Homo sapiens: one gene and its partners. The protein of the gene in region 6 purifies or fractionates together with the protein of the main gene of each other region. This does not show direct contact. Each region holds a gene or a part of one and is shown on either strand. Other genes may lie near its edges. The genes, in order: WDR4, ECD, CRCP, RPAP2, PPP3CB, DNAAF10 and RPRD2.

Region 1 (3,961 bases), on a different chromosome or scaffold from region 6:
GTCATAGATGAAGAGGCTGTCATCATCACTAAAGAGAAATAACAATAATTTTAAAAGGAGTTATCATTAGAGAGAAATAACAAATTTTTTTTTTTTGAGACGGAGTTTCGCTCTCGTTGTCCAGGCTCCAGTACAATGGCACGATCTTGGCTCACCGCAACCTCCGCCTCCCAGGTTCAAACGATTCTCCTGCCTCAGCCTCCCCAGTAGCTGAGATTACAGGCATGCACCAGCACTCCCAGCTAATTTTTACTTTTTGTAGAAACGGGGTTTCTCCATGTTGATCAGGGTGATCTCAAATCCCCAACCTCAGGTGATCCACCAACCTCAGCCTCCCAAAGTGCTCACAGGTGTGAGCCACTGCGCCTGGCCCATGTGAGCCACTGCGCCTGGCCCTAATTTTTTTTTTTTTTTTTTTTTTTGAGTTGGAGTCTCGCTCTATCACTCAGGCTGGAGTGCAAGGGCATGATCTCAGGTCACTGCAACCTCCCCCTCCTGGATTCAAGCAATTCTCCCGCCTCAGCCTTCCCGGTAGCTGGAATTACAGGTATCTGCCACCACGCCTGGCTAATTTTTGTAGTTTTGGTAGAGACGGGGTTTCGCCATGTTGGCCAGGCTGGTCTCAAGCTCCTGACCTCAGATGATCTGCCCGCCTCAGCCTCCCAAAGTGCTGAGATTATAGGCAGAGCCACTGCGCCCAGCCTAACAATGATTTTTAAAAGAGCACTTTGTTAAAAAAAAAAAAAAAAAGTTGATTTTTTTTCTCTGTGGAACAAAAAATATTTGCACACTCATTAAATTAAAAGTTGTATACTTGACAAGAAAACTGTCTAGATACAATATTTCAGGGAACAGTTAACAAACTTTATTTGCTTAATCTCTTATTGGAGTACGTCATACTGCATAGTTCTGTGGGAAAAAAAAGTTCAGTAAAACAAATGAGGGATAAATACTCAACAGGAATTAATATGCTATTCTTTTAGGCACCACAAAATCTATGCGACATGGTTATAAGAAATTACGGGCCGGGCGCGGTGGTTCACGCCTGTAATCCCAGCACTTTGGGAGGCCGAGATGGGCGGATCACGAGGTCAGGAGATCGAGACCAGCCTGGCTAACACAGTGAAACCCCCATCTCCACTAAAAATATAAAAAATTAGCCAGGCATGGTGGCAGGCGCCTGCAGTCCCAACTACTCGGGAGGCTGAGGCAGGAGAATGGCGTGAACCCGGGAGGCGGAGCTTGCAGTGAGCCAAGATCGCGCCACTGCACTCCAGCCTGGGCGACAAAGCGAGACTCCTCAAAAAAAAAAAAAAAGAAAAAAAAGAAATTATGTTCTGATACTGTTGAGCGTTCAGTGGGATTCTGTATACAAATTTCAAAGAGCCATTACTATTTAGAAACATATCTCACCTACCTGAAAGTGTTCCCATGACCCCAGGCACTTACCAACATAAGAATCACCCATTTTCCATACTGAACCTAAACTTCGGTTTATCCCATCCTCACCCCCTGGCACGTATCTTGTACATATTTATAGCCTTTAAAGCGAGTGCACCAAAAAACTTTCCATATGGAACCGTGGACTTGTCTTCCAAGTCAGAAACTCCACCAGCCACTAGAATTTCCTCAAAATGCAAAGACTGAAGGTAAGCAAATCATGTCTAATATATCCACAGCTCACTCTGGCAGATATTAGACCGTGAGTCTCTAAAACAAAATCATCTGGGATATGTGACGGGTTTCTGAGTACAATTTTTGTGAGACCTAACTTAACATCGAATTGGCTTTCTAAAACCAAACGAACAAAAAATATACAGTATATCTGACAGACACGTCGTCCGTTTCAAATATGAAATCACAAATAACCTGGGAAAGGAAACGAGGGGCTGAAACTGACAGCACTACTAATTGCTCCGAGAGTCCTGAGTTAGGACTGTTCCATCAACAAACATTTACTAAGTTAAAAATCCCCTGCGTCGTCCTAGCACTGGCGATACACTAAGGAAGGAGAATAAAATTACGGAAAGCAAAACCCGAGCCGTGCGAAGGGCCACTAGGGAGGTGCGCACTGCGAGCTCCACGTGCACCCTTGGGTTGGGTAAGTGTCGGAGATGACTTGGAGCCCTAAGGAGCAATTAAGGCCAGGTGAGTGGATGCAGGCCGGGAAGAGGGAACAGACAACCCTGCAAAAAGAGGGAGCGCGCTTGGAGGTCAGTGAGCTCGCAGTGAGTAAGCCCCTCCCTTCTCACCAGGGAGACCCGAGACCCGCTTCTTCCCAGTTCTGCAGAGCGTGTTCGGCCGGGCCTTGCTGACTGGTCAGCGTCGCCCCACGTGCTCTACCTACCCGGTCCCCGCCGGCGCCGCGGAGACCGGAAGCGACCCGGCGGCGCTAACCGGGCAAGAACACCGCAGACCAGCCATCTAGTGCAAGGAGCGCGCCGGAGCCGGGGAGCGGACGCCGAGAGCGGACGGCGAAAGCGGACCCTCCAGGCGCAGAGACGCGGCCAGGCCGAGACTGCGGCGGAGGACTCGTGGGCTGGAGCGGAGTTCCCCGGGGTCACCCCAGAGTGGGTGCGACCAGGCGGTGCGGGAGAAGCGGGGTCGCCAGGACCCGACGCGCGCCCGCAGCCTGGTCTCCCTGTTCCAAGACCAAGGCCCCCTCACCTGCTTGCTATGGAGGTGGCCAGGAATCGGCTGCCGCCCCGCACCACCAACGTCTGCCCGCACAACGCCAGTCCCACAGAGCCCGCCATGTACCCGCCCGCCTCACCGCCATACACATGTGCCAGCCCAGAGCCTCTTCCTGTCCGCACCGGTCGGTGACGCCAGGCGCAGACGCCGAGAGATGACGTATACCCCACGTACCGCGCATGCTCAAGGACGAGCCTGCCTTGAGCATGCGTGAAAGGTGCTGTGACCGCCCTCCGGGTTGTGGCTGGTGGCCTTCGGTGTTTCGGGTTTGGCAGTTCACTCACCAAGGTGATCTGATGGAGTGCACTTCGCACGATTCCAAGTACTTGCCTAATGTTCATCCTTTCCTCTAGACGGGGTAGGGCTGGTTCTGGATCTTTTTCCGCGGTAGCTGGAGAGACGTAGGACCTGATGATGGCTACTAGATGCCTGGTAAATGATCCTTCAAGAAGTGAATGAACCGGGGGCCGTGGCTCACATGAAGTCAGCAGTTCGAGAGCAGCCTGACCAATATGGTGAAACCCCGTTTCTACTAAAAGTACAAAAATTTGTTGGGCGTGGTGGCGTGCGACTGTAGCCCCAACTACTTGGGAGGCTGAGACAGAAGAATTGCCTGAACCCGGGAGGCGGAGGTTGCAGTGAGTCGAGATCGCCCCCGCTGCACTCCAGCCAGGGCGACAGAGCGAGACTCTCTCTCAAAAAAAAAAAAAATGTCCAAGATGTGGTCATGGGTGAGGGTGTCTCGGGTGGCGTCAAGTCTGAGGTCGCTAGAAGTAAGCCTACTGAATCTTTGCACTTAGACAAGCCACAGATGCCTTAAAATCTCCGAACTGTAGTGATATTTTCAACCCAAACTATGGTTAGTTTCCAGTGTTCATCCCAAGATCCCCAAAAGCCTCTTACAATCCCAGCATCAGGCACAAAATCTAGGATCTCACGGTCTGTTTTAGATTGGCTTGTCCGGTGCAGCTCCTCTTGATCCAGAGACTTACAAACTAAAAAGATTAATTTTCTCTCCCGTGCACGCAATATATGATGGTGAGCCGGGACCAGATAACCACAATAAATACTTGCATGTGAAAATGAGAAGAGGAGGAGACACAGTAATCACTGGTCCAAAGCAATTCTGAAATCCTACTGGAAGATGTTTTCAGGCCCTACAAGAATAAGAAGTCTTAACCAGGCCCGAGTTCTGCTTCCTGGGAGTATCTCCCCAGGCTGTATCTCAGCACAGCTCTTGCCTCTGCCCTCTTGGGTGTCCCTCCTT
Region 2 (3,500 bases), on a different chromosome or scaffold from region 6:
TGGAATGTAGTGGTGCAATCACACTCACTGCAACCTCTACCTCCTGGGCTCAAGTGATTCTCCTGCCTCAGCCTCCCGAGTAGCTGGGACCACAGGCATGGGCCACCACACATGGCTAATTTTTGTATTTTTAGTAGAGATGGGGTTTCACCATGTTGGCCAGGCTCGTCTCGAACTTCTGACCTCATGTGATGCTTCCGCTTCGACTTCCCAAAGCGTTGGGATTACAGATGTGAGCCACCGCCCCAGGCCTACAATGTATTGTGTTCTTGAAACTTGCTAAGGCAGTAGATTTTAAATGTTCGCACCACACACAAAAAAATAAGTATGTGAAGTAATGTACGTTATGAGCTCAATTCAGCCATCCTACAATATATATGTATTTCAAGACAACATGTTATACATAATAAATATATAAAATTTTTATTTATCAATTTTAAAAATAGGCTGGGCGCAGTGGCTCACACCTGTAATCCCAGCACTTTGGGAGGCTGAGGCAGGTGGATCACTTGAGGTCAGGAGTTTGAGACCAGCCTGGCCAACATGGTGAAACCTTGTCTCTACAAAAAATACAAAAATTAGCCAGGTGTGGTGGTGCACGCCCATAGCCCCAGCTACTCAGGAGGATGAGGTAAGAGAATTGCTTGAGCCCGGGAGGCAGAGGTTGCAGTGAGCCGAGATTGTTCCACTGCAGTCCAGTCTGGGCAAGAGAGTGAGAGCCTGTCTCAAAAAAATAAAATAAAATAAAATAGAGCACAGTGGCATGTGCCTGTAGTACCAGCTGCTTGGGAGACTGAGGCAGGAGGATGGCTTGAGCCCAGGAGTTCAAGTCCCGCCTGGGCAAAATAGTAAGACCCCGTCTTTAAAAAACTAAATAAATAATAAATAAATTTAAAACATTTAAAAATTTTAAATAAATTTATTTAAAGATAAAAATAAAATGAGTTATCGCTTAGATTTACATCCTGAAATATTTAAGGATCAAATGACAGCTACAGATGAAATAATAATGACCATGAGTTGGTAATTGTTGAAGCTGGATAATGGGAACATGTGGGTTCATTCTTTCTACTTTAATGTATGTTTAAAATTTAAATAATAAGTTTTCAAAGGTTTTTTTCTCCCTTCTATTTTGTTCTGTTGGGAAAGAGGTTGAGTGGGTAAAAAAAGATCAGAATTTGGGTGCTGACTAGGAAAACTAGGACAAAATATAAGTGGGCGGAACGCCCTCTGCTGGCAATACGTGGTTAATTACAGAAAACCCAGGTCCCATTTTTAACGTAATGTTACCTACTTTGCTTCCTATACAATTGTGTTCACTGACTTCTCTTTAAATTGTTTCTGTGTATGATTTCTCAAAAAATATAGCTATGGTCTAGTACAGGAATACATATTTAAAAATACGTGAAATATGTGTGTATGTGTATGAATGGAATTTTATTTTTCAAAGATCCACAAGGAATTTAATGGTGATTACTTCTGGGAAGCAAGAGCAGTAGAAACCTTTGTATCTTTTGAATTTTGTTTACCACATGTATTTGTTTTTTCATAATTAGAACTTTAAAAAGAAAACCTAAAATAAGTAGGTTTTATTTGAAATCTTTTGGAAGTTGAACTCTTTGACAGTACTTTAATTTTTTTTTTTTTTTTTTTTGAGACAGTTTCACTCTTGTTGCCCAGGCTGGAGTGCAATGGCGCGATCTCGGCTCACCGCAACCTCCGCCTCCCAGGTTCAAGCAATTCTCCTGCCTCAGCCTCCCGAGTAGCTGTGATTACAGGCATGTACCACCATGCCTGGCTAATTTTGTATTTTTAGTAGAGACAGGGTTTCTCCATGTTGAGGCTGGTCTCGAACTCCTGACCTCAAATGATCCGCCTGCCTCGGCCTCCCAAAGTGCTGGGATTACAGGTGTGAGCCACCGCGCCTGGCCGTGTACTTTAATTCTTTCTCAAGAAAAGGAAGCCACAAGAGAAGAGAAAGAAAACACAGATATGGCTGGGCGCGGTGGCTTACGCCTGTATTCCCAGCACTTTGGGAGGCCAAGGTGGGTGGATCACCTGAGGTCAGGAGCTCCAGAGACTAGCCTAGCCAACATGGTGAACCCTTGTCTCTACTAAAAATACAAAATTAGCCAGGCGTGGTGGTGCACGCCTGTAATCCCAGCTACTTGGGAGGCTGAGGCAGGAGAATCGCTTGAACCCGGAAGGTGAAGATTGCAGTGAGCCAAGATCACACCACTGCACTCCAGCCTGGGTGACAAAGCAAGACTGTCTCAAAAAAAAAAAAAAAGAGCACAGATACTATTAAAATCTGTACAATTTCCAGCAGACTACAGGAGAAAAATAAATTACTAAATAGATAAAAATGTAGTCACTTTGTTTCAGTAATAGAATTCCTTTAGAATAATTAAAATAACTACAATACCTTGCTACTAACTCTGGAAATTCCTTTGTGATCTGCTTTATTACATAAACAATAAACCATTCATCCTCAATGTTATCCCCAAACTTTGTCACGCCAAACATATGAGCAGGAACACCTCCTAAAAACAAGAGAAAAGCAACCATGTAACCAGATAAATTTGTTACTGCAAATAAAATGCACATAATCATTCAACTGAATACACATTCATTGACTGATTGCTCTAAGTACTGGGGAGCAGGGGTTGCAATCCTGAAGAAGAAGCCTACTCCTGAGGAGCTCAGGGTAAAACAAGACAACCAAATGATCTCAAAACAAGATAATGAACTCTAGAACAGGAGTGTGCAGTAACGGCTATGTGAGTATAAAGGAGGGGATATCTGTGCTATGCTTGCCTGGAGGAATGACAAGAGGTGAGCTTTCCAGAAAAATGGAAAAGTATGTGCAAAGGCACAGAGGCATGATGTATAGAGTATGTATGTATAGAGTATTCTGGGAATACCAGGACGCTAGATTTGGATGGAGCAGAAGTTTTCAAACATGTGCACTATTCACAAACACATGGAAACTAAACAACAACACACTCTTGGAATAAATCACAGGGAAATTAGAAAATATCTTGGGACAAATGAAAATGAATGCACATCATACCAAAACTTAAGGAATTCAGTGAAAGCAGTGCTAAAAAGGAAGTTTGTAGTTGTGAAAGATCTCAAATCAACAACCTATACCTCAAAAAAAAAAAACAAAAACTAAACCCAAACCTAGCATAAGGAAGGAAATAATAAACATTACAGCAGAGAGAAATATAGAGACCAGAAAAAATAATAGAAAAACAAAACAGCTGAGTTGGGTTTTTTTTAAAAGATTGACAAACTATTAACTTGATTAACCAGGAATAAGAGCAAATACTCAAATAACTAAAATCGGAAATGAAAGAGGGGACAGTACAACTTATGTCATAGAAATAAGAAGGATAAGAGAATTCTATGAACAATGGTATACCAGTAAGTTGGATAACCTATAAGAAATTGACAAATTCCTAGAAACACAACCTGTCAAGACTGGATCATGAGAA
Region 3 (3,500 bases), on a different chromosome or scaffold from region 6:
AGATGGGGTTGCCCAGGCTGGTCTTGAACTCCTGGGCTCAAGTGATCCTCTCACATCACCCTCTCAAAGTGCTGGGGTTATAGACATGAATCACTGTGTCCGGCCTTTCACCTTTTCTTTCCAACACAGGAGAAACAGTCCAAATAAAGAAGTAAAGTTCAAAGCACCATCTCAAGGTTCTCAGATACCAACCATTTCAGGTAGTTGAGAACATAAGGGGAAATAAAACTTAAAAATCCAAAGTATCAACAGCTGGGTTAACATAAATGATACATTTATTATCTCAATCCCAGGAGCATCAAACCGGGTTGCCGACCTCCAAAAATGGCAACTTGAAGTCGCCAAACCTAAAGTCCTACTTTCCTCAAAATGATTCAAAGATCTGATAGCAACAATGTATACTATTAAATATTTGATCCAGAACAGTTCACTGAATCTGGCTTTCTAAATTTCAACTTTCTCTAATGTAAAATGAAAGTAACGCCTACAGCGAGGACAAAAGGAGAACACATGTAACAGTGTTTTACAAGCAATAACGCTCTATATGAGTCAAGACTTCATAATCACGAAATCACTAACAGGCCTAGATGGTAGTGCTGTTCAGGGCAGTGGCCTGTGAGGTCACAGGATTCACTGACCTCAGGCCGGAGGGCTCACAAATCATTCCAAATCAATACACAACCGGGCACAACAAGTCCTAAGCTGGGTGGCCACCTCATTTCCTCACCGAGCCTCTGAGTCAGCAGGCAGTCATCAGAGGGCCACAGCAAATCACAGCCCAGGCGTAACTGAAGAGGTGAGGCTTCAGCCTCCAAAAGACACCTGGCTTCCAAGTGAATGCTAATAAATGTTGGATGCTGGGACTGTTTTCTGAACCCAGGGAGAAAAAATGGCTCTAGTGTTAATATAGGGAACTTCTCACTCAAGTCCTTTGTGCTTGCCACTGTAAGTGAAACCTTTTATTTCCTTTTGTTTTCTAGAGAAGGAGTTTCGCTCTTGTCGCCCAGGCTGGAGTGCAGTCACGCTCACTACACTTCGCTCACTACAACTTCCGCCTCCCAGGTTCAAGCGATTCTCCTGCCTCAGCCTCCCAAGTAGCTGGGATTACAGGTGCCCGCCACCATGCCCAGCTAATTTCTGTATTTTTAGTAGGGATGAGGTTTCGCCATGTTGGCCAAGCTGGTCACAAACTCCTGACCTCAGGTGATCCACCCACCTCGGTCTCTTAAAGTACTGGGATTACAGGCGTGAGCCACCGTGCCCAGCCATTTGCTTTTTTTTTTTTAAAAGACAGGTTCTTGCTCAGTCACACAGGCTGGAGTACAGTGGCACTATCATAGCTCACTGCAGCCTTGAACTTCTGGGCTCAAACAATCCTCTCACCTTAGTCTCCTGAGTAGCTGGGACCACAGGTGTGCGCCACCATACCTGGCTAATTTTTTTCATTTTTTGTAGAGATGGGGTCTTACTATGTTGCCCAGGCTGGTTTTGAATTCCTGGCCTCAAGCAATCCTCCCACCTTGGCCTCCCAAAGTGCTGGGATCACAGGCGCAAGCCACCATGTTCGGCCACAGCTTTCATTTCTTATTCACTCTGGTGAGAAGCGATACTGCTACAAACCTTGGTAAACAATTTGCTACCTTTTGTAGCCAAATTCCAGAGTGGGAAGAATCTGGCTATAAAATGGTCCAACTACTGAGAAACAGCAGTTTCTACCAAGGCCTACCTACTTTGTAGAAACGAGAAGGAAACCATCTCAGGGGATGCCACACACATCTTTCTTCTCATCAAGCACAAGTACCTGGCTTGGAGGAGCAAAGTAAAGCTTCTGAATCAGAAGGTCCCAATCAGCCACTCACCAGCCCTCTGGGCTAAAATGGAGAGGACACTTGCCCCCTTCCAAGACTATGGGGCGGGCATTCGAAGTGACAGACAATCACAGGCACCAGGACCAAGGACTGAGACCGTGTCTGGCACACCCCATGCACTCTTTTTTTTTTTTTTTCCCAAGATGGAGTCTCACTCTGTCACCCAGGCTGGAGTGCAGTGGTGCAATCCTGGCTCACTGCAACCTTGGCCTCCCGGGTTCAAGTGATTCTGCCTCAGCCTCCCAAGTAGCTGGGATTACAGGTGTGCACCATCATGCCCAGCTAATTTCTGTACTTTTAGTAGAGATGGGGTTTTACCACTTTAGCCAGGCTGGTCTTGAACTCCTGACCTCAGGTGATCTGCCCACCTTGGCCTCTCAAAGTGCTGGCATTACAGGCATGAGCCACCGCGCCCGGCCCACCCCAGGCACTCTCAATAGCAGCAAATCTTCCCCCAAGTAATGATACCACTTTCCACAGGCTCTGGCTGAGGTCACACTAATCCTCATCTCTTCTCTCTGCCTGTCATTAAGCCATGAGTAACATATGTTGCTGATTAAAGCTGGAGGAGACATGACATATGATCTTTAACCCAGAGGGACAGGGATTCGTTTCTTGCTGTTCTGTTTGTTTTTTCTCTCCTCTAAGCTCTAGGTTGAAACTCCAATACAGTGTAAAGCATGAAAATAATCAGGACACATGAGAAAGGGGTTTCTATTTAGCCTACAGGCGGGTTCCCAGAGAAAGGCACCCTTCATGAAAGGAACTGTTCTAATTTAATTTTGGGTACATTCTGAAGGGCAAAAACAACCCTAGGAAGACAATGAACAATTTAGTAAAAAATTAAATACCCTGTGGCCTTTTAAAAAGTTTTTCCATTAGCAACTCTAAAAATCGTATTTTTGACCATTTTCTTCCATACTTTTCTAAAGGAAATTTGACAAAGAGCTAAGTATTTCTAAAACTGACTTTGGAAACTGCTTTATTCTCATTTTGTTAATTCTCTAAAGTTTCTTCTTCTTTTTTTTTTTTAAACTGGCAATTAGACGGCCTGCTTAACACTTGTCAGGTACCGATGCTCTCTGCCCTGTAATAAGAAGGCAGCGGCCACAGCGTGCCCAGTGGTGGCCCGGGTATCTCCCTGGATCATTTCCCGGGCCCCTTATCCCATCGTAGGCCCCTCTACTCTGGCTGCCTCCTCCTATTCCAAAGCCTACGCTCTCAGTACAAAGCGGACTTCACAAGTGATGAGGCTGTACTAAATAAACGGTTTATGCAGGGAAATGGGATCACATTCATGGTTTTAGATGTGATCTCTGACGGTGATGTGGGAGATGGACTTGGGGAGCCAGGGAGAATGGGGAGAGGATAACCGCAAGAGCCGCGTGAAGAAATAATGGCAGAAATCAACGCAGTACACGGGGGAGAGAAGCAAGAACGAAGACAGAAGCAACAGAACTTGGGGACTCCCTGACTGTGAGATGAAAGGAAGAGAATGGCTTGCAGGTTTCCGGCGTGGGAGGCCAGGCCAGGAGATGAGCAAGGAAGGGAGCTGATGGGACAGCGCACACATGCTCCCCTCACCCAGAAAGAGAGGAAGCAAGAGCAGGGTGAAGGGTGGGCGTGGGGACA
Region 4 (3,500 bases), on a different chromosome or scaffold from region 6:
TACTTTATATATATATTTATATATATATATATATTTGCAACAACAGGCAAATCCAAATAGTGCAGTAGGATAGCATTATCAAGTTTTTTAAAAAGTTTTGCTGTACTCCTGTAACAATTTTAAAATAATTGGGGGAAAAAGATGAAGGAAGAATACAGAAGGAGAACTATATCAAAAAATATATTATTAACAGATGTACTGAAATTATAGGCTTCTTCTGAAATTTATATATCAGAACCTAGAAATAAGGTTTTGTCTGGGGAATAAAAATTTCTACCTTGAAAGTTACAATGTATAAATACTATGGGGTACTTTACTTTTCTATTGTTTTCGGGTTTTATTTGCTATTTTTTATTTAGTTATTTTATTTCTCTTTCATTCTACAGTGGCCATTCTGGAGAAGAAGTACAGTTATGCAGTAAAGCCATTAAAACATCAGATATCGACAATCCTAGCCACTTTGAAAAGCAATATGAATCTAGTTCTTCTAGCACTCACAGTGATAGTAGCAGTGACAATGAGCAAGACTTTGTTTCCTCCATTCTACCAGGAAACAGACCAAATTCAACAAATATTAGACCACAGCTGCACCAAAAAAGCATAATGAAAAAGAAAGCTGGTCACAAAGCTAACTCCAAACACAAAGACAAAGAACAGACAGTAGTAGATGTCACTGAGCAGTTAGGCGATTGCAAATTAGATAGTCAGGAGAAAGATGCTACATGTGAACTTCCTTTACAGAAAGTAAATACTCAGAGTTCTTCAAATAGCACTTTGCCTGAAAGATTAAAAGCGTCAGAAAATTCTGAAAGTGAATACAGTAGGTCAGAAATAACTCTAGTAGGCATAAGTAAGAAAAGTGCAGAGCATTTTAAGAGAAAATTTGCCAAATCAAACCAAGTGTCTAGGTCAGTGTCTAGTTCAGTGCAGGTGTGTCCTGAAGTTGGAAAGAGAAACTTACTTAAAGTTTTGAAGGAGACTTTGATTGAGTGGAAGACAGAAGAAACATTGAGGTTTTTGTATGGCCAGAATTATGCTTCTGTGTGTCTGAAACCCGAAGCCTCTCTGGTTAAAGAAGAACTTGATGAAGATGACATAATCTCAGATCCAGATAGTCATTTCCCTGCCTGGAGGGAATCTCAGAACAGCTTGGATGAGTCTTTACCTTTTAGGGGCTCAGGTACAGCCATTAAACCACTGCCAAGTTACGAGAATTTGAAAAAAGAAACTGAAAAGTTAAATCTGAGGATCAGGGAGTTTTACAGAGGACGGTATGTTTTGGGTGAAGAAACCACCAAATCACAAGACTCAGAAGAGGTATGTCTTACAGACATTGAGTTTTTCCAGATCGTTAACATTTGGAAAACTCACCACAGCAAATCTTGGAGCAGGAAGGATATTGAAGAGTTAATTGTTAAATTTTCAAATAGTTTCTTTAGTCATTCTGCCTTTTGGTTTACAGTGCCATCTCCACTGTTGGCATTACTATTTTACAAATAAGTTGACGTTTACCCCTAGCAAATTTTCATCAGTGTGCAATATTTTTTTCTAATGTAAAAATAGCCTAAAATGGTGGGACAAAGTTTTCCCTAATTCTTCATACAATAAATGAAGCCTCTGAAGAGGCTTGCTTTTTCTTCTTCGGTATTCTTTCAGATTTTTACATGGGGTCTGTGTGTGTGTGTTTAATGGAAGTATATGCCATGGAATAGACTTGGTAGTTACATTGGAAAATATTTAGCAAGCATGTCCATTGAAAACATTACAGATCAAAATAGTTTGTAAAAGAGACTTATTGGGAAATAATGGACAAAGAGAATGGAAAGCACATTCAGATAGACCTAGATTTGAACATCTGTTGTGTCATTTACTAGCTGTATGAAAAATTAGTTTCTTGGTCTGTTTGCTCATCTGTAAATGGAACTATTAATAGCTTCTCTTGCTCAATTGTTATTTGTTTTAAAGATAATGTGTATAAAGCATTTATCACAGTACATGACATATAATTGGTACTCAGTAAATAGTACCCATATGTAGAGATTGAAAATGTGCCACTGAGATTTAGAGAGCATCTTTTAGTATTTCTACTACCCATCTTTGATTGATGTATACTCCCTGGAAAATGAAGTCATTTAACATGAAGAGGAATGGGTAATAACCTTGTTTTTACCACAAAACTTTGTTCTCAAATATTCCTAAGTAAATGTGGCTCTAAATTTAAAAGCACATTGGAGATTTGGAAAGAGGGTAGAAGTAGAAATGTAGTAAAAAATTTAGAAATATATTTCTATAGAGTGTTGCTTGGCCCAGCACCCTACTTCAAATCATTTCAAGTATCTTATTAGACATCATCCAAAACTTATATTAAGCTAGGAGAAACATTGATCTCTGTCACTGAGCTGCATAAACCTACCATAGAACATCACTTATTTTATCATTTTGTCCTTTTTAGCCTTAAAAAGGAAAAAATAATCCCTGAAATTTGACTTTTAAAAATTTATAACATTTTCCAAAAATGTTACATAACATGTTAAAACATTTCCATTGAAGTACAACACAAATAGTAATTATATGATTTCTTGAGTATTCACATATGAATGTCCTGATGTAATCACTACCCAAGCCAAGAAATAGGTCATTACAAGTAAACTAGAAGCCCCATATATATCCCCTCCTAATCAGCACCTCTTTCCAAAATTAATATTATATTAGCACAGATTAGTTCTGTCATTTTTTTTCCAGTATATATTCTTGGTGTCCAGTTTATTTCATGCAATATTATACTTTTGAGTCATTTGTGTTGTTGCATATAGCTGTAGTTCATTCTTTTATTGCTGTATAGTATTCCATTATATAAATATACCATTTATTTATGCTAATGGACATTTAGACTATTTCCAATTTGGGGCTATTATGAACAATATTCTTAGGAACTTTCTCGTATTTATCTCTCTGCTAATATGCGTATGTATTTCTGAAGTATCTAGGACTGGGAATGGTGGGTTATCGTATATGCATATATGCAACTATACTAGATAATGCCAAACAGTTTTCCAAAGTGGTTGTACCGGTTTACAGTTCCACTACTACTATATGGGAGTTTCCTTGATTCCATGTCCTCCCTGGTACTTGATATAGTTAGTTTTAGCCATTCTGGTAGTATTGGTTTATGATTATAATACATTACTGTGATGATGAATAAATTCAGCACTATTTTATTTGCTTATTGACCACTTGGATAATCTCTTAGGTCAGGTCTGCAGATCTCTCAGCCATGGATACCAGCACCTGCTCTGGTGGAGATGGCAGGGGGGTGAAATGGATTCTGTGAGGATCCTTGCTTTTGGTTGTTTAATGTACTATTTTTGTGCTGGTTAGCCTCCTGCCAGAAGGTGGCACTTTCAAGAGAGCATCAGTTGTGGTAGTATAGGGAGGATCAGGCTGTGGGTAGGGCCGTAGAACTCCCAAGAATATATGCCCTTTGTCTTCAGCTACCGGAG
Region 5 (3,500 bases), on a different chromosome or scaffold from region 6:
GGCTCTGTTCTTTGTGGGGGACCTGAAAGGACTTCTCCTGTCTACCAGTAACTTCCTTTCTATTCTAGTACTGATGTTCCAAATACCTACAGATACTAACATCTATAGCCTTAAAAAATTCCATTTATACTGACAGAGTTTATCATGAACTCAAATTTGCCTCAGAAAAAGACTACTGAGCATCTTTTCAAACTCATCTACCAATTAAAGAGACATTAAGGAAGAGAAGTGAGGTCTTACAGGCATAAATTCTAATTATTTCATGATATAGACACATAGGTCATATTATAAATAAGAAATACATTATTGGTATAGTGTGTCACTGGTCCATTTAGAGAATTTCACCATAATTAGTCAAACATTTTATAGTCAAAGATTCTTTTTTTCGCTCATTTCTGGGTTTGAACTGTATAAAGAGCTCACACTGAGGACCAGGACTCAAGATAGCACACAACAATACTGGTTTACAATATTGTCCATTCCCCTTATTACTCAGAATATTTGTAAAAGTAATGCCCTGGTCTCTCCTATTTTGCTTCTTCTGCAATAAGGCCAATTAGAATAATTATTCCTGAAGTGATCTTTTAGCAATTAACATGATTTAGAAATAATTTTATCCAAAGCAATTATTAATGTAAAAGAAACTGATGAATCTAAGGTATTAAAGTGAACTAAGTTAGAAAATGTTGATCTTAACCAGACAGTAAAGTGAATTGGGGACCCAAAAGAATTAGGACGAACACTGAATAAAGGAAGAGTTAATTTTCCTTAACTGTTAAACTACATTACAAATCGGGCAGGACATGGAAGATCATGCCTATAACCCCAGCACTCTCGGATGGCTGAGGTGGAAGGATCCCTTGAGCGTTTGAGCCCAGCCTGGGCAACACATAGAGAGACCTCATCTCCCCCCAAAAAAAGTTTAAAAAATTAGCCGGGCATGGTGGTGTGCATATGTAATCCCAGCTACTCGGGAAGCTGAAGCAGGAAGATCACTTGAGCCCAGATTGCTAATTGCAACACTCTATCTGAAAGGCACTATTTCTCCTCTATTTGTTTTCAGTTATATAGGGCATCTTGTCATGGCCTTAATAAGTTTGAGCATAGTGCTATCTCAAACTGTGTTCCTCAGTACTATGCAAGATAAATGACCAAGAGGAATTTGGTATTACTAACATAGAATTGGCCACATATATTTCCCATATAGATCCTGGTGAGGGTAGCATTACAGTGCTAGCTCCCAATCAAATTTCCCAGAAAGAAAACATACATAAAATAAAGATGAACAGAAAATCCACCTCCAATAGAGTTGTGCAGTTTGTAAAAACACTCAAGAAACATCATGTAAATTAACTTTTAAAGTTCTTGAAACGACAATTTTTATTTTCTGACAAATAGGCACGAGGTCTTAGAATTAAAATTTTTTCCTTTTGCAATACCTAACTCTCAGTTATACACACTAACATCAGGGAACATTATCTACTAAAATTTAAAATGTAGGATAACTTTTTAAAAAATAATCACAAACATGCAGCTTTTGTATGACCTTTGTTATTTGTTTCAAAGTGGATTTATCTTATGCTAGGAAAATAATTTTGACCAAATGCCCAAACCACACTATCAAGAGCTAGCAAAACTAGAAGCTATCTAGTTTAAGGGGTCCCAAATTAGACCCCTTAAACTCAATTCCTTCCAGTAACTTAGTCCATGCTGAGAATAGAGAGTCCCTCCAGCAAAGCTGCTGTCTTTCAAACCTCCCCTGCAGTTGAGGGTGGTTTCAAAGTTGAAGGAATGAGCTTCAAGCCGTGTACAAATTAAGAATAAACAGAAGTCAACAAAGCATGTAATTAGCAGGGGCTAATCGTGAAATCTGAAAGCAAGGTTTGCTGCGGATACAATATAAAAGTAATGTTATATCCAAGGATAACTGAGAGATGACTATACTGTAGATTTATTTAAGTATGATACCCTTTTGGTTTTATTTTTCTTTTCTGAACAAAGAAGAGTATAATATTTTTGAAGCTATTAAAGTTCATCCTTTTCTATTAACATTTTTACTAGTTTTATCAAATGTTTAAGATCTTGTTTTAATGTACATTCATGAAATTCTTTTTAGTTCATTTTTCTAATGTTTACAATATAATAAGAAAAATGGAGGGCAAGGAATGTAAAGCAAATCAAAGCAGGTTGTTTTTTTTTTTTAAAGAAAATCAAAAAAAGAAACCTCATTCAGAATGAAAATTTATAATTTCAAAACACAGTGTACTTTTCAGATATACCAGTGGTGGTAGTGAACAATACAATGACATTTAAAATAGAACATGTATAGGCTACAAGTAAAAATTGTTTACAGGAAAAAAATTTTTTTTATTGAAAAGCAATCATTGGCCAGGCATAGTGGCTCATGCCTATAATCCCAGCACTTTGGGAGGCTGAGGTCAGAAGATTGCTTGAGCCCAGGAGTTTGAGACCAGCCTGGGCAATACAAAAATATAAAAAAATAAAAAATAAAAAAAATAAAAAAAATTAGCTGGCTGTGGTGGCATGTGCCTATGGTCTTAGCTACTTGGGTGGCTGAAATGGAGGACTGCTTGAGCCCAGGAGGTTGAGGCTGCACTGCACTCCAGCCTGGGTGACACAGCAAGAAACCAGACCCTGTCTGTCTCTCTCACACACACACATGTACACATGCACACAAAAAAAGAAAGACAGAGAGAGAGAGAGAAAGAGAGAGAGAGAGAGAGAAAGAAAGAAAGAAAGACAGAAAGAAAGAAAGAAAGAAAGAAAGAAAGAAAGAAAGAAAGAAAAAGAAAGAGAAGAGAAGAGAGAAAAGAAAAAAAAAGAGCACTTATTATGGAACCAAGTGAAATGAAATTGTGAAGTCAAATGTAAATTCATTCAAAACGTTAAAATTGCCTATTTTTTTCCCTCTAAAAAAGTCACTAATTACAACACCAAAAAGAAACCTAATTATGACTAAGGAAAACATCAGATCTGTTGCTATTTTAATAGACAATGACCCTTAGAGGGCTGTCAAAAGTGACTACAAGAAATTCAGGCTTTTCCACATCATGTATTTTTGCTTTCCAACCACAGGAAAAGAAATCTAGACTGAATTACTGTGTATGGTCACTAATACTCACATCACTCTCTTCTATTTAATCTGTAATGGGCTTTTAAAAAGTTAACCCAGTATTTACACAAATATTTACGCCAAAAAAAGTTTTTTAAGTATAAAATATTCAATGAGCCAGATTACAGGAATGCTTTACGTATAATTCTTTTTATTTTCATGCAAAATAAAGGCACACTTAATAACACCCTTTCAATTTTGACTTACAGGATTTAAATTCAACCCCTTATAACAATGACTTAATATCTAATGTTACATTCATGTTCAGAATGCACAAAGTGCAGCAACAAATGCAGCAAACCTCAAAACAAGGTGCTACAAAGCTGCTTCTACATTGCAAGACAGACAAGTGTCTGATGGAGTAATT
Region 6 (3,500 bases):
CCTTCTCAGTGCTTGTAACTTAGGTCTTCCCTGGAATACTGCAAAGAGCTCTTGAACTCATATTCTCTGTACCACTCATCACTCCCGCTAAATACCACTAGTTCATTTTCCTAAAGCTCGGATTTCATCTCTTCCTTGCAAACACCATCAAAAACTTAGAACTATCTTCAGGCCGTCCTAACACCTCTGGCCATTGTCCTGAGCCATCTCTAAGGATATTCCTACTATTACTCTCTTCTACCGTTGGCCCTCCCTATCCATGGGTTCTGCATCTATAGGCAACCAACAATGGATCGAAAATATTTGGAAAAAAATTTGCATCTACACTAAAAACGTACAGACTTCTTGTGCTTGTCATTATTCCCTAAACAATACAACAATGACTGACACAGCATTTATATTATATTAGGTATTATAAGTAATCTAGAGATGATTTAAAGTATACGGGAGGATGTGTTAAACCATTCATGAGAACTCCGCCCCCATTAATCACCTCCCACCAGGCCCCACCTCCAACACTGGGGATTACAATTGGACATGAGATTTGGTGGGGACATAGATCCAAACCATATCAAAGGGCAAATGTCAATTAGTCTTCCAAAGTCAATATTCATTTTAAGTAAATTAATGAAGGAATACAGTTATCAAAATTTATAAGAAATAACTTTGTAATGGCAAACTATTTTCTAGAAAATAAACATACTCCGTATATAGCGTAATGTATGATTTGTTAGGTAACTGTTTGCATTTGAGGCTTGGTTTATCCCCATTAATGGTGTCTGACTTTAAATTAGGTCAATATTATCTAGTTAAACAGGAACACATAATAATAAGCACAATTCTCAGCACTTTACATGTAATTAACTCATTGACTCTTCATGACAACACAACTAAGTAAATTCTATTATTAATTCCATTTTATAAATGAAACATCCAAGGAACAGATAACTTTGGTAACTTGCTCCAGGCCACATGGCCAATAAGTAGCAGGTGAGAATTCAAACTCAGGCCCCAGAGGCTGACATTAACCACCACGTGTATTTGCCTCAGTAAACTATTAGAATAATCCACAAAACAGACCATAAAGAGACTACTGTGAAATTTCTTGCAGCATCGTGCTTTTTACCATCTGATAATTCAAATGCAAGAATTCTTCAATAATTTACCAAATGCCACAGTCCAACAGTCTCTCTTGTTTTCTCCTTGTACAGGTTCCATATTAGCAACAGGATCATCTTTTTGCCTTGGGTCCCACACCTTCACAGTTCCTGCCATGCATAAAAGTGAGTTGGCAAAAATTCAAAAGTAAATGATTATGTTTCTTTTCTACATTCTTCTTCTATGGCTTCCTGTGTACATGGCAATATGACAGATGTTATGACATCTGAAAATATCCACATTGTTCTGACTTCTAATTGGGTAAGTTGTATTTAATATCAGAGATATCACCCATATGTAACTATCTGACTTGGTTTCCAAATTAATAGACACACAGAAAAGCCAACAAGTGTTCCTAAGTTATCTACGAGTGATGACTGACAAGGCAAATGTGAATGTTACGTAATTCAAATCATGAGCCTAAAATGAATGTGTTATTTTTTAGGGAAAATACCAGTGTTGTTTTAATTTTTACTTTTTTCCTTATTACCCATTTTAACCATTGGCATGAATACACTCTAATTTTGAATTAATGGTTTCTTATGTGAGTTCTAGAATACTATTTCTTTTTCTTTCTTTCTTTCTTTTGTTTTGAGATGGAGTCTCACTCTGTCGCCCAGGAATGCAATGGCGTGATCTTGGCTCACTGCAACCTCCGCCTCCTGGGTTTAAGCGATTCTCCGTCCTCAGCCTCCCAAGTAGCTGGGACTACAGGCATGCACCACCACGCCCAGCTAAATTTTGTACTTTTTTAGTAGAAATGGGGTATTGCCATGTTGGCCAGGCTGGTCTCAAACTCCTGACCTCAGGTGATCCACCTGCCTGGGCTTCCCAAAGTGCTGGGATTACCGGCGTGAGCCACTGTGCCTGGCCTAGAATACTATTTCATATACAGTTAAGTTTAATTTTCCTGTGGCAATAGTGAAGAGGAAAATGTTAAATAAAATTAACAAATTCTCAATTTAATTTCAACCCCCTTGTTTTAATTCATGTTATGGGACTACTTACTAAAATAGTGTCACTACCTACAAAAAATGCAAATGCATGTAATAAAATGGCTAAAAGGCAAGTACCTGAGAATAAGAAAAGGGCAAAAAAAAAAAAATCCTTAAAAGGAAAACAACTCAGGAAAGGTGGAGGTACAACATTAGATTTATCTCCAGGGATAAAATAAAGTTGATCATTAAAAGGCTGCTTTACTTTAATATTTATTTATTTAGAGACAGGGTCTTGCTCTGTCACCCAGGATGGAGTGCAGTCGTGCGATCATGGTTCACTGTAGCCTTGACCTCCTGGGTCCAAGTGATCCTCCTACCTCAGCCTCCCAAGTAGCTGGGACTATACCACCATGCCTGGCTAATTTTTAGTTTTTGTAAAGATGGGGTCTCCCTATGTTGCCCAAGCTGGTTTCAAGTGATCTTCCCACCTCAGCCTCCCAAGTGCTGGGATTACAGAGATGAGCCACTGCACCCACCAAAAGCCTGTTTTAAAAAGAAAAAAAAAATCCCAGATATAGAGATAAGAGATTATCTTTCTCTATAGGATTCATACAAATTGATAAGATCTCAGCCCACTTCAACCTCCCACTGCCAGGTTCAAGCAAAACTTGTGTCTCAGCCTCCTGAGTAGCTGTGATTACAGGTGTGTGCCACCACACCTGGCTAATTTTTGTATTTTAGAAGAGACAGGGTTTCGCTATGTTGCCCAGGCTGGTCTCAAACTCCTGGTCTCAAGTTATCCGCCCGCCTCAGCCCCCAAAGTTGTGGGATTATAGGCGTGACTGTACCTGGCCCAATAAATTTTTTAAAAAATCATAAAATATATTTATTCCAAAAGAGTTACACATATGACAATACTCATTTACTCATTATTTTTAAGCCACTCTCATAAGACAACAAATAAAAAAAGCAAACCAAAGGCTTATAAGGGAATGGTTAAGTACGGCCATATGATGGAATATTATATAGTCATTAAAATGATAACTGTGGAAACAGCAACATTTGCATATGACAAAACATTAAATAAAAAAAGTTTCTAAGATACAAATTCATATTCACACTTATAACTATGCAAAATTATATATAAGACCTAAAAGGAAAAGAAAAATCTAATGGTTGTGGTAGTGTGGTAGACTGAATGTTATTTTTCCCTCTATACTCAATATTGCTTTTATGATTAAAAAAAATAAGTGATTTCTAAAACACAGCTGCTCTTGAGTACCCACTAGAAAATTATATCTCACTTTTCCTTTAAAGCAATTTCCTCATGGTCTTGAGCGGCCATTAAACAACTAGCCAAATCAATTATAATAGGTACCAAATTTCTCATGTACCCCTCGTGAA
Region 7 (2,460 bases), on a different chromosome or scaffold from region 6:
TTAAGTGCAGAAGTCAAAGGGGACATCTGGAAAAGATCAACAGGAGGGGAAAAGTCAACCACACAACAAAGGAAACCATACTTTATTAAACTGGAAAACAAAATAATGGGGACAAAGGGATTAAAAAAAAAAGGAACGTCTGGAAGAGAGTAAAGTGCAAGTGGTTACGAAGTGGGTGGTCTGTGGTATCTCTGTGTGTGCCTGAGAAATGTGTGGGCGCACACACCACTACTCCCACCCCCATACCCTTGGACCAAAAGCCAATACAACCATATCTTCTGAGATATATCCAGGCTTTTCCTTCTGCATTCTCTAGTTGGTTTCACCTTCGGCCCTGGACAGTCAGGCTGGGTCTTTGCTAGAGAAAACTTAGGTTTTCCAACCACAGGCCTGCTCCACAAAGCAGCGGTTTCAGCTCCTGAGAAGTTCCCTCCTATTTGCACTCACTAGGAAGCCAGGGGCCCCTGGTCCAAGCCCGTCTCAAAGAAAAATGTCAAACCTTTCAAACTAGTTATTTTATTAAACGATATTAACACACATTTCAAAAGGATTTCATTGTTGTTGCTTCTAAAGCATGTACTTGTTTTGTTTTCCACACCGAACACGTGAGAATATCAATCCAACATATCTATTTTAGATCTTAACAGGCGCCCCCGCCCACTTAAAAAAAATAGTGGGGGAACTGGGGAAAGCAGTAATTTACAGCGGCTTCAAAACAGTAACAGCTGAAGCTCAATTCTGCAGGAACCGGTAACTTCAGGATTGAGAGTGAATATCCTGCCATTAGGAAGTTTATCGTATTCACATTATCTCGATAGGTTTGCTGGACCCATATATATCACAAACATTTTATTCCTGGTATTGGAAAGTATAAAAGTCCTATTCTCTGCTTATTTTCCCCTCCCTGGAATCAAACCAAATTCTATTTACTCTCAACTTTTGAGAGGGTAGAGGGGAGCAGGGAGAGAGCTCTCATCTAAGCTGACTGAAGAGTAAACTCTTTCAAAATACTTAAGGACCCTATTTCTGAACTGTATCACTGAACTTTAAGTGGTACTAGTGTATTCACAACCCCTACCAATTCTCTGTCTGTGATTTTACAGTGAGTACCAAGGACCTTACAACTTCTCACATTCTGCTTCCATATGAATCATGTCCTTGCTAAGACACACTATGTTATGCTTTCTTTAAAAAATATCTTGTTTATTTGTTTAAACTCAGGTTGAAATACAAAAGTCAGAGCATGGTCACGGAGTTTTAAATCACAGACACAGAAAGAATAAAACCCCTTTCTTTCACGTTATGAATACCAGAACTGTCTTTTCTGTTTCACTATTTATCACATATATACACACTGTCATCTTCATTTACTGATGTAAATGTAAATTTTAAGATTTCCTTAAAATTAATAGCTGACAGTCTCATACAAATCCTCACTTCCATCCTAAAACAAACATATTGAGGATTTTGTGGCTTAAAAAACAAAAAAGTACCCCACAAAAACCCAACTCCTTAAAAGCCCACCTTCGAAACTGTCCAACAAAGTCTTCCTTTCATGTATTAACCATCATACTTTTGAGGACAATTATCCCGCCCCAACGTTCAGGAAGCCACTTTCCTGACATCCCCACATTTTCTGATAAAAATTAAATGGTCAGAGAGCCTTATCAAGTAAACACTACTTTTAGCTTAAACAAGAGCAGCAAAGAGAATTCACATTCTTTTATTCTAGAATGAAAAACATCCCATTTAATTTCTGCAAAAAAAAAACCTATTTCAATTTTGAAAGTCAAATATCATTTCCCCACCTCCCACCCCATTTTCTCTTATGCTTTTCCCTAACAAATGTCTTAGGACTCAATATAACTATACTTTCTTTTCTTTGCTACACTACATACCCCATCCCACACGTAAGGTCATGGTATCATGCATTTTTGTGGGGAGAGCTACAGGGCAGAGAGGGTCGAGGAAAGAAAGAACAGTTGGCTTAAGACCAGACAGGCATTAAGAAGATGAATGACCTGCAGCATCCTAACCCCAGAACACATGGCGAGCCCAAATAAATAACAGAATAAATTACGCAAAAACTCCCAAATCATGATGTGCACCTGGTTTATGCTGCTCTTTCTCTGAAAAGTTCATTCTGAGAGAATCATTTTCTGTCACTACATTGCCCACCCTCCCCCATCTTTAATATTCTACTGGAGGAAAAAGCAACCCCATACTTCCTATAGTTAGTTCTATACTAACTTGGAAGAAAATATGAAACTTGCCAGAATTCTCTGGAAAACTAAACACATACTGTTTTACTCATCTAGCTGGAGATTATCAGTTGAGTATGCCTTGGGGTAAGACACTAAATTAAAAAAAAATTGTAGTAAAGCAACATTTACTTTTCAGTGTCCCTAGATATAAAGATATAAACACTCAAAGTACAGTGATTGTCTATTTCCCAAGTAC

The links.
Region 1: the proteins of DNAAF10 (region 6) and WDR4 fractionate together in Homo sapiens (co-fractionation; one large-scale study listed by BioGRID). This does not show direct contact.
Region 2: the proteins of DNAAF10 (region 6) and ECD purify together in Homo sapiens (affinity purification with mass spectrometry, with the first as the bait; one large-scale study listed by BioGRID). This does not show direct contact.
Region 3: the proteins of DNAAF10 (region 6) and CRCP purify together in Homo sapiens (affinity purification with mass spectrometry, with the first as the bait; one large-scale study listed by BioGRID). This does not show direct contact.
Region 4: the proteins of DNAAF10 (region 6) and RPAP2 purify together in Homo sapiens (affinity purification with mass spectrometry, with the first as the bait; 2 studies listed by BioGRID). This does not show direct contact.
Region 5: the proteins of DNAAF10 (region 6) and PPP3CB fractionate together in Homo sapiens (co-fractionation; one large-scale study listed by BioGRID). This does not show direct contact.
Region 7: the proteins of DNAAF10 (region 6) and RPRD2 purify together in Homo sapiens (affinity purification with mass spectrometry, with the first as the bait; one large-scale study listed by BioGRID). This does not show direct contact.

Annotation. Positions count from the first base shown.
Region 1 is NC_000021.9:42,876,740-42,880,700, forward strand, and holds the start of WDR4 (tRNA (guanine-N(7)-)-methyltransferase non-catalytic subunit WDR4), read right to left. Parts: upstream 2,801-3,961; 5' UTR 2,757-2,800; coding exon 2,668-2,756; exon of another isoform or gene 2,425-2,667; coding exon of another isoform or gene 2,348-2,424; exon of another isoform or gene 2,253-2,347; intron 29-2,252; coding exon 1-28. UniProt on the Homo sapiens protein: Non-catalytic component of the METTL1-WDR4 methyltransferase complex required for the formation of N(7)-methylguanine in a subset of RNA species, such as tRNAs, mRNAs and microRNAs (miRNAs).
Region 2 is NC_000010.11:73,158,009-73,161,508, forward strand, and holds part of ECD (protein ecdysoneless homolog), read right to left. Parts: intron 2,544-3,500; coding exon 2,426-2,543; intron 1-2,425. UniProt on the Homo sapiens protein: Regulator of p53/TP53 stability and function. Inhibits MDM2-mediated degradation of p53/TP53 possibly by cooperating in part with TXNIP. May be involved transcriptional regulation. In vitro has intrinsic transactivation activity enhanced by EP300.
Region 3 is NC_000007.14:66,145,847-66,149,346, reverse strand, and holds part of CRCP (DNA-directed RNA polymerase III subunit RPC9), read right to left. Parts: intron 1-3,500. UniProt on the Homo sapiens protein: DNA-dependent RNA polymerase catalyzes the transcription of DNA into RNA using the four ribonucleoside triphosphates as substrates.
Region 4 is NC_000001.11:92,323,059-92,326,558, forward strand, and holds part of RPAP2 (putative RNA polymerase II subunit B1 CTD phosphatase RPAP2), read left to right. Parts: intron 1-386; coding exon 387-1,317; intron 1,318-3,500.
Region 5 is NC_000010.11:73,440,525-73,444,024, forward strand, and holds part of PPP3CB (serine/threonine-protein phosphatase 2B catalytic subunit beta isoform), read right to left. Parts: exon of another isoform or gene 3,265-3,500; intron 1-3,264. UniProt on the Homo sapiens protein: Calcium-dependent, calmodulin-stimulated protein phosphatase which plays an essential role in the transduction of intracellular Ca(2+)-mediated signals.
Region 6 is NC_000002.12:68,140,528-68,144,027, forward strand, and holds part of DNAAF10 (dynein axonemal assembly factor 10), read right to left. Parts: intron 1,269-3,500; coding exon 1,167-1,268; intron 1-1,166. UniProt on the Homo sapiens protein: Key assembly factor specifically required for the stability of axonemal dynein heavy chains in cytoplasm.
Region 7 is NC_000001.11:150,474,607-150,477,066, reverse strand, and holds the end of RPRD2 (regulation of nuclear pre-mRNA domain-containing protein 2), read right to left. Parts: 3' UTR 501-2,460; downstream 1-500.